2 separate regions of the Homo sapiens genome follow, and region 2 is linked to region 1. The links come from fine-mapping of genetic effects on gene expression. A gene starts in region 1. The other region holds a variant in brackets. All regions are shown on one strand. Distances are between the middles of the regions. Region 1 holds the start of LIPH (lipase H). Region 2 overlaps IGF2BP2 (insulin like growth factor 2 mRNA binding protein 2).

Region 1 (2,928 bases):
ATACTATTTTTCCATTTCCCTTCTAAACTTCATTCACATATGCATACATACATGATTTTAACATAGTTGTAATTATAGTTTACCAACAAATTTAAGTTCTACTTTTTCTACTTTGCATTACTTTAAAAATGTTTGCTTATTTCTGCATATCATCAGAATCAGTTGAAAGGCTACTTTAAAAAAATTAAGTTGATATACTGTCTTTTATCCATTCCTGTATGTAGAAACATTTTGGTTATATCTAGTTTCAAGTTATTGCAAGTAATATAGTTAGACTTATCTCTGCATAGGAGGCTTTTTTCTTTTAAAAGTTATGCATTTAGAATAAATTCCCAGCAATGGTTTTACTAGCTTAAAGTATATGAACATTTTTACAAGTCTTAATATATAACATATTTACCCTTTGCCCTTCAAAAAAATTATATCAACCTTCATTACCACAGCTATCTGAAACAAAACTGAATACCTAAAAAGGTTGCAAAGTGTTGAATTTTATTTTTTTAAGCATTTCACTTTATTTTTGTTACATTATCTGGTACATTAGGGTTTTAATTTTGATTTCTTCATTATGATTAATAATTTTTAAGTTATAAGAATGCCAGGAACCATTCCAAGGAGTTTATCTATATAAAATTATGTTTTCTCTAAGAATAATTTAAATAAACTCTCAATGCATGAAAATATAAAAACCAACCCTTGATATATTAAATATAAGATAGATTTTTATATTTCCAGAAAATAAATCATCTCATTTCACAGAACTAGAAAGGCACAGATAAATAGGCTAAGAAAGAAAATAAGACTTCTAGATTTTTCAGCATATTTGATTGTTGTAAATAAGAAGAAATTAATTCAAAGACATAATAGCTTCTTTTATTATTGAGAAATTTTTTTCAGGATGAGAAAGTTCATCTAACCTGTATCTTTTTTTTTTTTTTTTAAGGAAATGTTAAGGAAATGATACAGGCTTCCTATATCTTTTTCCTTAAAAACGACTCTATGGACTTAAGTTCACCGAAGGAAGTGGAATGATGACATGCAAAATGACAACACAACTAATTCTATTTTTTAAGCAGTTAAGAAAACCAGTTTGTAAATAACCTACCTGATCTTGACAAGCACAACAAACTGATGAATAAGTAGAATCTCAACATATGGAAACTGGAGAGATCGTGTGTCACATTCACAAGAATGATTTACTTCGCAGAGGCTTAAGAGTTTCCACTGTGGGATTTTGCTCACAGTGAGCTCAGACGACTCAGAGGTGTGGTGACAACAGGAAGTTCCCTAGGGACTGACTGCAGGCAGTCCCAACCCTTTCAGGATCTTTGACTCCTCCTCTTTTCAATAAAAGGTCACTCATTGTCTACTTTATACAATTTTGTGCATATCTTAATATTATAATCTGCATCTGCAGAATGACGAGTTCAGAATAGTTTCATTCTTCGTGGGCGGTTTATTAGTTGTTTGGCTTGGTGTGTTGAAACCAAGTGTGACTTGAGATCTTTTCCCCTTGGTTCTTGTGAATGAAATAACAAATCCAGTTTGTATCTGTTGGCCTGTATATACAAAACCAGTTTTTATGTTAATTCATACACTCATTCATCATAGGGCAGTCTTTAGATTTTAAGAACATTTCATTAGGTCCAATTATACATCTACATTTGCCAAAATATATGTATGCTTCAGATTAAAAGAAACTTTTTTTGGTATTATATATCTTTATTTGTATTTCTTCCTACCGAGAATTTCTACAGCTCTAATAGGTCTTTTTTAAAAAAGAAAAACAGGCCGGCACGGTGGCTCACGCCTGTAATCCCAACACTTTGGGAGGCTGAGGCGGGTGGACTGCTTGAGGTCAGGAGTTTGAGACCAGCCTGGCCAACATGGCGAAACCGTCTCTACTAAAATTACAAAAATTAGCCGGGTGTGGTGACACGCACCTGTAATCCCAGCTACCTCAGGAGGCTGAGGCACAAGAATTGCTTGAACCCGGGAGGCAGAGGTTGCAATGAGTCCAGGTCACATCACTGCACTTCAGCCTGGGCGACAGAGTGACTGTCTCAAACAATAAATACATAAATAAAAAGGAAAAATAAATGAAAAACTTTCAAATAGAACCCCATGCCAGAATCTATGTATCTCAGGGATAGAGGTAACTAAACTTGTGCTTCATAGCTCCAAGGTAATTTAATTCCCTTTCTGGCGAGAGTGCTTGCAACACTAACTCAGGCTTCTAGTGGTCTGATGAGCTTAAAAATCAATTAATAAGCCGGGCGCGGTGGCTCAAACCTGTAATCCCAGCACTTTGGGAGGCCGAGGCGGGCGGATCACGAGGTCAGGAGATCGAGACCATCCTGGCTAACACGGTGAAACCCCCTCTCTACTAAAAATACAATTAGCCGGGCGTGGTGGCGGGCGCCTGCCAGCTACTCGGGAGGCTGAAGCGGGAGAATGGCGTGAACCTGGGAGGCGGAGCTTGCAGTGAGCCAAGATCGCTCCACTGCACTCCAGCCTGTGCAACCGAGCGAGACTCCGTCTCAAAAAAAATAAATAAATAAAAAATAATAAAAAACATTAATATGCTGGGCGCGGTGGCTCATGCCTGTAATCTCAGCACTTTGGGAGGCTGAAGGGGGTGGATCGCTTGAGCCCAGGAGTTCCAGTCCAGCTTGGGCAACATGGCAAAAACCCATCTCTGAAAAAAAATACAGACATTCTTTAGTGCACCTGTGGTCCCAGCTACTAAGGAGGCTGAAGTGGGAGGATCACCTGAGCCCAGGAAGCAGGAAGTTGCCATGAGCCAAAATCATACCACTGCACTCCAGCCTGGGTGACAGAGTGAGACCCCGTCTCTAAATAAATAAATAAATAAATAATAAAGACGCAACTTAAGAAAACATTTCATCCAAAGCATCAGGCAAAAGC
Region 2 (2,928 bases), 190 kb after region 1:
GAGCTCAACACTTAGGGTTTCAAGTTAGGCTTCACGGGCAGTCTCTGCGATGTCGGACTGCACAATGTTGGGGACATGCCTGAATTTGGCTTCCACAGATTGTAACAAGAGTTTTCCTTTTGACCCTGATACGCAAAACTGTGCCATCAGTACTGGGTGGCAAATCTATGCTAGGAAGGGACATGATCTCAGCCATCAAAATTAGAAATGGAACAGCCCTCCCCAAATCTAGGCAGAATAACTTAGTCCTAAATGTCTTAGAAGGGCTTTTGATACTTGTCTTGGGACTCTAATTTACAAGCTAACAAGTGTCACCATGAAAATGGCTTTTTGTGATGTTTCGCATTAATTTGTATTTCTTTTTATATACTGCTTTGATTGATTCTAAATACATTTTCTCTTTCCATGATGTTTACATCCTTCACATTCCTAGGGACTGTTATCATATCCCCTTTAATCATCCGTTGGCCAAGCTATACATATTAAATTCCTTTCATCTCTCCTATGTCCTTCCTTCCAGCAGCGTTGGCTCCTCTTTAAATTCCTTCCAATCTGTCAACATCTTTCTGGAGCTGATGTACACCCTCCCTTAATAAACATTCTAGGTGCTCCTTGTTTCCTAAGAGTTCTCCAAAGACTCCTACTGTGAAAAAATATTGGACTGGGAGTCAAAAGTGGTAGTTCTAGTCCTGGATCTGCTCCAAGCCTCAGTTTTCCCTTTTATAACATGGGAGTAACACCTTTTTTGGCTTGATCAAAAGAGAGTATAAAATATAAAATCACTTTGCAGATTATAAAGTAAATGTGCACAAAGAATGTGTGCATATAGTATTTGCACAATATTAAAAACATAAACAAAAAAATTGGAAACAAGTATGTCAAATAACTTGTTAAATCTGATAGTGGCATTCGCAGTAACAGTTACATTATTCTATACATTGAGTGCTTTACATTTCAACTTCAAAGAATTATTTATCCATTTACTACAAGTATTTACTTAACTTCTACTCTACACAAGAAGACAGACTAGACAATGTGGGAGAACATGAAGCAAAGACCTCGAGAAGTTATGATGGTCATCCCCAGTTCTTAGACACTCAGTACTTGGTTTGGATCACAGAATATCAGGAAGCTGTTCCTGCTGTCTCTTGGATTATGCTTTATAACATTGTGGTGAT[C/T]TCTTATTATTTCTTTAGAGTAGATTCTGAGAAACAGAATTACTAGGTCAAAGGGTGTGACCATATTTAGGCCTCAAATTTCCAAATAGTTTCCCAGAAAGAGTGTGCCAATTTCTACCCTCACTGCCAATGTTTAACAGTGTATTACCAGGCCATTGCCAACACTGGATATTATCTTTATTCCAAATCTAATGAATTGCTTTTAGAATTCATAAATAAAGGCATGAAAAAATCTAAAATAAATTCATTTCTACCAAGATTAAGTATCCTCACTTGCTATCTATTTTGATGTCGCCTTGTGGTAAGTATTCAACAGAATCTTTAGTACTTCAAAAGACATTAACTGAGTGCCTATTATTTTCCAGGCAATAAAACTGGGGGTTAAACCACAAAGATGAAATAGTCCCAGATCCTGCCTTTAAAGGGCTCATAATCTAGTGTAAAAGATAAACACTAATAATTACAGAACTAATTATAGAGCACTGTGGGCAGAGGTCCTTCCTTGAGAACATGAAAAGTATAAAAGCAACACAGAAGACGGAGGCAGGAACAGCCTAGGGGAGTCAGGAAGGGCTTCAGGGAGGTGGCAATATCCGAGCTGGGTTTTGAAGGATGAGCAAGTCTTAACCAGAGAGGGGAGAACGAAAGAGATGAATCCAGGCAGAGGAACCAGTTGTTGGTCTTTGCAGCCACTACCATCCTCTCTCAGAAAATGTTTTATTATATGAAGGTTTAGCAATTCAGGGCTAAGCCTCACTGGGCAGTTTTATTGTTTTAATCTCTATCATTTACAGTTGCATTTCTGTCCCTGGAGAAAGCAATCAGAAAATATTCCTGGTACTTCATCCAACAAAGGGCACAAGATCACTGCTGCTTCCTTCACAGAGAATGCTGTTTTATAAAAACAAGTATTAAACAATAATTTTGCTAAATACAAACTTTAAAACTTAGATTGTCAAGCTTGAAGAGGACCTTTAATCCTTAAAGATCCTTAAATACTTTCTCAGGTAAAGTGGGAATATCTATAAGTTAAGATGAATAACTTTCCTTTCCACTCCTACAAAATTAAATCAATTGGAGCTACAAAAAAAGTCACAAAACCCAGTTTAAAAAATAGCACAAGAAATGATTAATGACATCAGATCAATTTTCAAATAATAAAAATATTCCTAAAAGCTGCCCTTTTATATGTGTTTTCACATATCTTTGGTGGCATATATAAATATCCATGTCTGGGATTTAGCAGCGTTCTGAAAAATATACTCTTGTGGAATAGGGATTACAACGGTGGACTTAAAACAAAACGAAACGGCCATTGCAACTGTACTAGGTTACAAGCCTCTAACCTGTCCTGGAATTTTCAAAGCCCAAACATCACTGCTGGTCTCTAATCCTCAGTGTGTTTAAATTGCAGGGCATTTAAACAGAATTGGCAGAAAAACACATACAAAGGGGCCTCTTTATAAACTGTAAAAAGATAGCATTCCAATTACTCTGTCAATTATTTTCTTTTAAACTAAGTCCTTCAAATTGTGCCGTATGGCTCAAATGTCTTCCTAAACCCTTCTGTTATCAAAAGGCAAATAGATCTTCCCTTGAATCTAAATGACAGCCTGGCTTTCTCCTGGCTCCTCAGGAATCACTACCACCTGCCGGAATGCAGCTGAATTTGGCCAGGAGCAGACACACTGATGCTGTCCCGTGATGAGGACAGATTCTCTAGTCAGGGAGCTCTAAGGGAAGGCTATGA

What was found.
Region 2: its variant is fine-mapped to the expression of LIPH in whole blood (TOPMed, PIP above 0.99).

What each region holds. Positions count from the first base shown.
Region 1 is chr3:185,551,318-185,554,245 of GRCh38, forward strand. LIPH (lipase H) reads right to left here and starts at 1,271. Exons shown (of 10, transcript NM_139248.3): 1 at 1,106-1,271. The coding sequence starts at 1,154. RefSeq lists an enhancer at 1,281-1,360.
Region 2 is chr3:185,736,715-185,739,642 of GRCh38, forward strand. The region is part of intron 2 of IGF2BP2 (insulin like growth factor 2 mRNA binding protein 2); the gene reads right to left. Among named protein-coding and RNA genes, the nearest start is that of IGF2BP2-AS1, 25 kb to the left of the region's middle. The variant C/T (reference allele first, on the strand shown) is at 1,179.